2 separate regions of the Homo sapiens genome follow, and region 2 is linked to region 1. Evidence: fine-mapped expression QTL. A gene starts in region 1. The other region holds a variant in brackets. All regions are shown on one strand. Distances are between the middles of the regions.

Evidence for each region. PIP is the estimated chance that this variant, and not a neighbour inherited with it, causes the effect. A credible set is the group of variants that fine-mapping cannot tell apart.
Region 2: its variant is the best candidate, but not a certain one, in a credible set for the expression of WDR17 in blood mononuclear cells (TOPMed, PIP 0.87).

What each region holds. Positions count from the first base shown.
Region 1 is chr4:176,063,395-176,067,794 of GRCh38, forward strand. WDR17 (WD repeat domain 17) reads left to right here and starts at 2,447. Exons shown (of 29, transcript NM_181265.4): 1 at 2,447-2,685. RefSeq lists a silencer at 2,323-2,702.
Region 2 is chr4:176,001,148-176,005,547 of GRCh38, forward strand. It overlaps a transcript of GPM6A not described here. Among named protein-coding and RNA genes, the nearest start is that of WDR17, 62 kb to the right of the region's middle. The variant C/T (reference allele first, on the strand shown) is at 2,418.

The DNA.
Region 1 (4,400 bases):
TGTGAGGTGAGTATATGACATTAAATACTGGTTGAATAAAAGAATAAAAAATCAGAGTAAAGAGATCTTTGTTTTATAAATTAGGTATATTGTTCCTCTAGATCTAATCTAACTATAGTTGTGATTATTTAAATCTGTTCAAAAGGAATGAACTAAATTCTGGTAAAGGAATAAGAGTCCTGAACTGGGAGACCGGGATCACTCTATCAAAATCTGCTGCTAATATGACTGGAGATTTAAACACCTTCATCTTTAAATTATGAGTGCACAACTAGATAATTTCAGTTGTCTCATTCAATTTTATGTTTCTTTCTTTTTCCTTTTTCTTTTTTTTCTTTTTTTTTTTTGAGACGGAGTCTCACTCTTGTCACCCAGGCTAAAGTGCAGTGGCGCAATCTCCGCCTTCTGGGTTCACGCCATTCTCCTGCCTCAGCCTGCCGAGGACCTGGAAGTACAGGTGCCCGCCACCACGCCCAGCTCATCTTGTATTTTAGTAGGAACGGGGTTTCACCACCACGCTGCCGTCAAACTCCTGACTTCAGGTGATCCGCCCACCTCGGCCTTCCAAAGTGCTGGGATTACGGGAGTGAAACACCGCGCCCGGCCGGTTTTTTGTTTCTTAACTGGAGAGCTGGAGCCATTATGAGCAAAATAAACATAAAAGATTTTTTCCGTCCAACCGATGGACTAAGCTAGACGTTGTATCTTCAGCATTTTCTCTTCATGTACACCATTGACTATTCAGCACTATACCTAGCAAATATCAGTCATAAATGAAAACTATAGTCTGTTTTCACAGAAATGTTTCTTGTGATTTTCCCTCTTCGCTATTCTTATTTTCATTGTCTTAACTCAGGTCATCAGCATCTTTTCCCATGAACTACTGAATTTTTCTCCTAACAGACCATGTTCTTCATCTTCCTGCATCCCATGTATCTCCAATGTTTCCAAGGTGTCTTTCTTGATGAAAAAGCACTGATTTTATAAACTTCAATCTCTTCCTTTGGTTTAGAGGTTAAAGCCTAACCCATATATAGAATTCTGCATCTTTCCCAATCAAGTTTTCTTATTTTTCTAGTACAGTCTTTTGCCAATTTCCATCTTCCTTCTTATCTTTGGATTCACATCCCCAACTCCGGAGAAGGCAAAAACATCAAATTTATTTACATCAATCGTTTATTTTTTCCCACTTTATGCTTTTGGCAATGCTGCTCCTGCTGCATAGTATACACTTTCCCCTTTTTATCAGGTGAAATTCTACCTATTTATAAGTCCCTGCTCAAATACTAATCATATTGAAAGCTTCTCTGAATACCTTGGAAGAAAAAGTTCTGCCTCCCTCATCTGAAATCATCTCATAGCACTTTTATGTAACCCTATTTTAGTACTTAACACATTGAGTTATATTTAGTTATTGCCCTTATACTTTCTCTGGTAGATTATGTGCTAATTTCTTTCTTTCTTTATCCATCTATCCATCAAGAATTAATTGAAGACCTGCTATTCATCAGATACTTTGTTAGAATATAGGGGACGGAGTTGTAAGAACTGATTTTAGCTTTAACAAGTTTATTCTTTATATGGAAATCCAACATTTAAGTTAATTTTAATTTACAATATAGAATATTGAGTGCTGTGGTAGGTACTCGTCTCTGCAGAGAATATTTTGGAAAAAAGGAGCATTAAAATCTACTGCATAGGAAGGTAAGAATTAGGCCCAGGGACTTTCTCTGGTTGAGGTCGACCATTCATTTATTAACTATTTAGAGTGGAGTATAATTAATTCTCGATAGATGTCATTAAATACACTTTGTTTCGAGTACGTCGAGGCTTATTCTCTCTAGTGTGTTGGATAAAGGCCACAGGTAGTGAAGATATTTCAGAGATGTGAAGAATCCAGTAGGAATGACAACATCCAGCACTTCCATTCAACCAGATCCCACAGGGAAAATGTCAGTTTTGTGAAGGCAGATACATTAACCACATACAACTCGATTAATATAAACAAATAATCTTATCCATTGAGCTCTCCCACAGACCTTCTTGGGCCCAATCAGACAATAATGAAGTGCAGGCGAGACAGCATTCTGCACTCACATTCCAGGCACTGGTTCAAGTCCCTCCTCCAGGTCCCTCAAGAAAGAGACAGGATGACTGACTTACTGTATATTTGACTCATTTTCCTAGAAAGTGCAGACTCGCTATAAAATGTGTTAGGTGGTGAGAACGCTGATGGTTCACCGTTTTCCTCCACTTTCAGCCTCAGTGCAAACCCTCTGCCCAAAGCCTCGCTCCAGTACGGAGGAGCTGCGCCTTCAACACACTTTCTCTGTTGCCAGGTAACCACTTCTCCCTCAGCCTAGTCTCCAAGGGTCACGAGCCACTTCCGCCTCCCCCTCTCGGGCGCTCCAATCAGCGACCTGTGTAGCTGTCACGTGGGCCTCTGGGGCAGACCCTGGAGATCGGGCTCGCGGCGCCTTCCATCGTGGCTCCGCGCTGGGGCTTGCGGAGCACGCTTCCCGCCCCTCGGAGCCCGCGGGCCCGGCCGCCCCGCCCCCGGGCGCCCTGAGCGAGCAGGCGGGGAGGGCGGGGAGGGTCCGCGCGTTGGTGGTGCTCGCCTCGCAGCTGCGCCCGCCGGCTTCAGCACCTTCCGCTGTCCGCCGCTGCAGCCGCCTCCTCCTCCAGGTAAGAAGCCGGTGGGGCCGCAGAGATACCAAGGCAAGCTCAGGATTGATGTGGGTGATGCTGGAACTGTCGCGGCGTCATGCGAGAGGGGCTCTGACCTCCCTGTGATCGCGGACCAGGGTAATGTACGTCCTGCAGGGCTTTGCACACCATGGTGCCTGATGAGATAATCAACTGAGTTTTAGAGCCACACACCTGATTCTTACAAGGCACAGCAAGCAGCGAATATTTATGTATCTAAACTACCATTGCAGTGTAAACTGTGGACATTTCGAGGGACATTGTTTTATTTTTATGGCTATTAAGTATATGTCTAGAGCCTAGGTTGCTGTTCTCATCCCTCCGCCGGCCAGACACTTCTGTATAGATCATTTACCCCTTTGAAGATGGACTTATTAGTAGGGTTGTACTAAGAAAGGTTTGAGTAAAAAGGAAATGCGTTCCAGAAAAAAGACGGTATTGGATATAAGGCAGGTATACTATTTATTAAGTAGATCGTAAAATAGAATCTTTGCTGTCCTCCCCTCTCCAAAATCAGACTTGTTTTGCTTGCAAAGATTGAAAGGAACAAACAATTTAAGGAGACTTTTTAAATATATTAATTAAAAGCAATTGATTCGAATGAAAAGTAATGAAAAGTCCGACCATGCATCAAAAATAAATTATTTTGCATATTAATATATACATATATACTATATATATTTAACAAGGGTTTGAAGAGAGATACTACATTTCTGAATCTTTCATAAATACCCTTTAGAGAAAACTATCAAAAAAACACAAGTTCGTTGTAAAAGGATACGAAACGGCCAAAGCCCAACAATGTGAGATTATAGTTGCCGTTCTTAGCACTCTAATAACATTTCTGCGTTGTAAAAATTAGAAAATAAATGACAATGAATTTATGAGAATTTATAAATTTGAACTCCACAAGAGTTTAAGCATTAATTTATTTGTAGATTTATGCCTTATCATTACCCTGCTTGCCAGGAGCTGATGCTGGGCGGGTGGTGAAACAAACTCTGTGGAGAAAGCACTCTTACATCCTTTTGAGATTCTGCCTCACTGGCCTAAGTGTTCAAGAAAATGGATATAGTTATATCTAACTGTTTTGAAGGCAGACGTCTGAGATAGGTGGTCTGAGAACCTTTCCCCTCCTATCATCTAAAATTAAATATAGTTATTAAGTGCTTTTGAAAAGTTGTCAATTCGTTAATATTTTGGGAAACATCCTTTACTGGATTGTTTGGAGATTAATGTTACAAATGGTAGCTTTAGAGTTCCTGGGAAGTTTTAAAGCAATGACTTATTTCAAAGGGCATATACGGAAAGTAAAGCTCTTGAGTTCTGCAAACGTAATTATGTAAAAATAACTAGTTGAATGTTATTGTTTACATTGTTCTGACTTTCTCTTGTGTTGATATTAATAGAACTGCTTAAAAAACTGTGGACATCTGAAGAAGACGTTAAATATGCTTACTTGAAAGTTTTAACATTCTTTATTCTTCTTATTTCTAATGATAAATAGTGGTGTTCTAAATATTTTTAAGTTACCCATTAGTCACATAAATAATTCCATAGATTAGAAAGCCATAAATTAATTTAGGCCAGAAAAACAATGCTCCCAGTAGAGGGGAGACTAGGGCTAGATTGCTTTTGTTGTTGCTGTTTTCTACAGACTCTATCTTGTATCCTTTAGTCTGGGAAAGGAGGGA
Region 2 (4,400 bases), 62 kb before region 1:
CTAACCCTTGAGCCTGTGGGAATACAGGAATTTCAACCCGAGCACGTCAGTCCCCAAGGCCTCCTTTACTCTTGGAGAAATCCCTCACAACAAAGGACAAGGGAGAAGCAAGGGGGAGGGGCGCCCAGTGGACTTGGCTGGAAGAAGTGAGCGGGCTGGGGTTGGAAGAGTAACTCGGGCTGCGGGCTGAACGCAGTCGGCAACCGCGGAAGAGCAGCATCTCCCCTGCGCCTGTGGATACGCCAGTCCAGGGATGGCGAGTGCTTTCTCCTCCCCAGCTTCTCCCTCGCTCTTCGAGGTGACTCGTGGGACCCTGCGTCCTAGTGCTGGGTGTGAATCGGCTATTTCACACCCAGTTCTTCCTCCCCTCCGCCACACGCAGTCACATTCCTGGAGCTATTCCAAGCTGCCTCCGCTAAGCACCGAATAAGCGGACCCTGCCTGGAAACTTGAGCGAAGCTGAACTGCGCCGAACTCCACCGTCCAGTGACCCGAGCCAGTGTGGACGCCCTTTTAATCACGCTGTTTACCCAGGTGGAATTTAGGAAGAATCAGCCTTCAGCCTCAACCTCAAACCTTTTGTGCAAATGGGCACTTCGTTTGGAAAGGGACTAGAAATTGTCCCCAGTCTGGCCCTGCACCAGCACCTTCCTCTGCTCAAACCTGTACAAAGTGGAAGTTTTAGGAAGTTTCCATTTCTCGTGCCCCGTTTCAACTTGCTCCCCAAAGAGAACATGAAAACGTGGGAACTCGGGAGGACAGAGATCTCCCTGTAATCGCCTCGCTATTCGGATCCTGGGTCTCTTAGTCTTTCTTTATTTCCCAAATACCGCCCCCAGCACGGTAGACCGGACCCCCAGGCTTGGGTCCTGGGGCCGGCGCAGAGGATCAGCGCCCAAGCGCAGCCCCCCACCCTCCCGACCCACTGTAAACAGTCGGGCACCCTCCCTCGCCTCCAGGTGCCACCCCATCGCCATCGCCTCTCTCCCAGAAAAAAAAGTCCGGAGACAAGAGGGCGGGGGGCGGGGGACGCCAGGCGCGGGGGGAACAGAGCTGGGAAGGACGCAGTCTGAGGCCGAGGAACATTCATTTTCTTTCTATAATGCCCATTCCCGAGGCCGAGCCTTTGGGCGAGGTGTACGCGCCCGCCCGCGCACTCACCCATGGCCCGAGGTCCTGCTTCTCTGCAGTCCCCAGAGGAGAGCGAGTGACCAGACGCTGCGCGGGGCCAAGTTCTCCAAGCCGCGCTGAGGCTCCTCGCGCCCTGGCAAGTGACAGCCTCGCCCCTCCCAGCGGAGACAACTCGCAGGGCGCCTGGCGACTCTGCGGGCGCACAGACCCCTCCCTCTTTCCACCTGCCTCCTCTGCGAGAAGCCCGTTTTCCTCCCCTTCACTGTGGGTCTCCTCCCCAGAGGCCCCCACCCTGCCCCCTTTCACTTTCATTAGAGACACGTGCAAAGTCTCTCTCCTAAATACATTGAATGCACATTACAGACACACACGTTGTCTCAGCACCCCACAACCGACTCGGTAGCCAAGATAATGATCTCTAAGTGGAGTCTGGAAATAGATTATTCCAAAAGACAGGTTTCATATGATAATTTTATGTTCCCTTGTCTTCTGTGTACCATTTTGTTTCTTAATGATAATAACATTAATAAAGACAAGAGGAAGAGAAAATTCTCCCTTTAATTTATCCTTTGTCATCTCCTCTTTCTTCTACATAAAATATGTTTCTGTAATTGGACAAGGTTATAAAGTTCTAAAAACCATACACTCAAACACACATGCACACACCCTGACATACACACACACACACATCATAATATGCAGAAATCACCTGGAAAATAAACAATTCAATCCAAGAGGCAGTTGATGAGGCTGAAAGAGCACAGGGCTTGACAGTTGAGAGGATGAGTTGTAATCCTGGCTCATTTCCTAATTTGTAAAATGAAGGATCTGGAAAAAGTGATCTCTAAGGTCTCCTCAAGCTAAAAAAAAAAAAAAAATTATATAACTCTATGGGTTATTGACCTAGTTCTTTCAAGAGTCATACTGGAGAAGTTATTTCAGTAAGTCAGTCCCCAAGGTGTACACAGCTTTTTCATGCAAAGCACACCCAAAAGTATACATATCTATGCTGTGAGCAAGTGGAAGAATAAAATAAAATGGATATGATTACTTACCTTGAGGAACATTGCTATCTAATGGGGAAAAGGTGATATGAAAAATAAATAACAATATTTTTAGCAGAATGCATGGATAAATGCAGAGCATATCATTCAAATGCCACATAAACATCTGCACAGCTCTTTCTCACGTAATGGAAGAGGTATACTCCTGGCAGGGGTGTGTAAATGCACTTCAGTTACATGGGAATACAGTTATTCTTATGGGAGGGGAAAGGAAGTAGTCAA[C/T]AAAAATTAAAAGTGTTCAACATATCATTCAGAAATGCATCACCCTTCTAGAAATTGACTAACATGAACTGTGACTGTAGCAAAGCATAACACTAATACATTTGTTCAATAAATATAAGTTGCTGGCTCACACTTGTACTTCTGGCACTTACAGAGCCTGAGGCAGGTATATCCCTGAAGCTCAGGAGTTTGAGATCAGCCTGGGCAACATAGTGAGACCTCGTCTCTCCAAAAAAATAAACAAAAAATTAGCTTGGTGTGGTGGTGCACGCCTGTAGTCCCAGCTACTTGGGAGGCTGAGGTGGAAGGATCACTTTATCCTGGGAGGTTAAGGCTGCAGTGAGCCAAGACTGCACCACTGCACTTCAGCCTGGACAACAGAGTGAGACCGTGTCTCAAAAAAAAAAAAAAAGATAAGTGATAGATTTTGGAGATTGATTCATAAGCTCAGTTTTAGGATCACCACAAGCAACTTACAATCTATCTCCTGAAGACTTATTCAAAATAATATTTGAATTCTAAAAATTAGAACTGTTTTTTGTTTTTTTCCCATCGGATTCTATGATAATCCTGAAATACAAAATAATAATTATAACATAAACTGAGTACAGTGTGCTAAGTGTCAGGCATTGTACTAAGGGCTTCATATTAGCTAATATAATTCTCACTAAAAAAGGAAAATACTGTTATCCCCACTTTACAGATGAGGGAATTAATCCACAAAGAGATTAAACACTTGCCCAAATTCTCATAATAAATGGGAATGCAAAATTCATACCCAGGACAAAATACTCCAGAGTTCATGATCTTAGTCAGTTAACCACATTGTTTCTCAGTATCCAACTGGTTTGCCACATGCTTGAGAAAGATGGTGATATCTTCCAACAATAAATATAATTCATAATTTTTTTTTTTTTTTTTTGAGACAGAGTCTGGCTCAGTCACCCAGGCTAGAGTGCAATGGCGCCATCTCGGCTCACTGCAAGCTCCACCTCCCGGGTTCATGCCATTCTCCTGCCTCAGCCTCCCGAGTAGCTGGGACTACAGGTGCCCACCACCACGCCCGGCTAATTTTTTTTTTTTTTGTATTTTTAGTAGAGATGGGGTTTCACTGTGTTAGCCAGGATGGTCTCGATCTCCTGACCTCATGACCCACCCACCTCGGCCTCCCAAAGTGCTGGGATTACAGGCGTGAGCCACCATGCCTGGCCTAATTCATAAATATTTTTAACATTCCCAGTAAAATATATGAAATTTAGAATACACTAAAGATACAAATCATCATATACTGGCTTTTAATAATCAAAATCATGATGTTTTCTTTCCTTTGCCTTATTATAAGTGAATAGATCAAAATGTTGATGTTGAATTCATTTATCTTACAGTGATGATGTAAATGGTGTCAGTATCCTAGATCTCAGGTATAGAGAGGCCATTATCTCCCCTGAAATCTAACAAGTTACATAATTTTATATGGGATTCAATAAACATATAAATTAATTCATTATCTTACTTAGTACATTATTTTTTTACTCTAATTATCCGGTATTTCTGCTTTCTCATTCCTGTCACCTAATTGTCCATCAAGTCCTAAGGTTCTGTTTCCAAAATATTCTTCCCATTCATCCCGCATCTTCAGTTTCATTGCCTAGACCACCTTTTAGCAAGTCCTGTGGAAATATAACTAACACTTCTTTTTAAAAACGGAGATACTTACCAACCATGGGACTCAAAATTAAGGCTTTAGCTAAACTTGTAAAATTCTGAGATGAATATAAATTTTTCTTTTCTTTTCTTTTTTTTTTTTTTGAGATGGAGTCTCGCTTTTGTTGCCCTGGCTGGAGTGCAATGGCATGATCTTGGCTGACTGCAACCTCTGCCTCCCAGGTTCAAGCGATTCTCCTGCCTCAGCCTCCTGAGTAGCTGGGATTACAGGCATTTTTTAGTAGAGACGGGGTTTCACCATGTTAGCAAGGCTGGTCT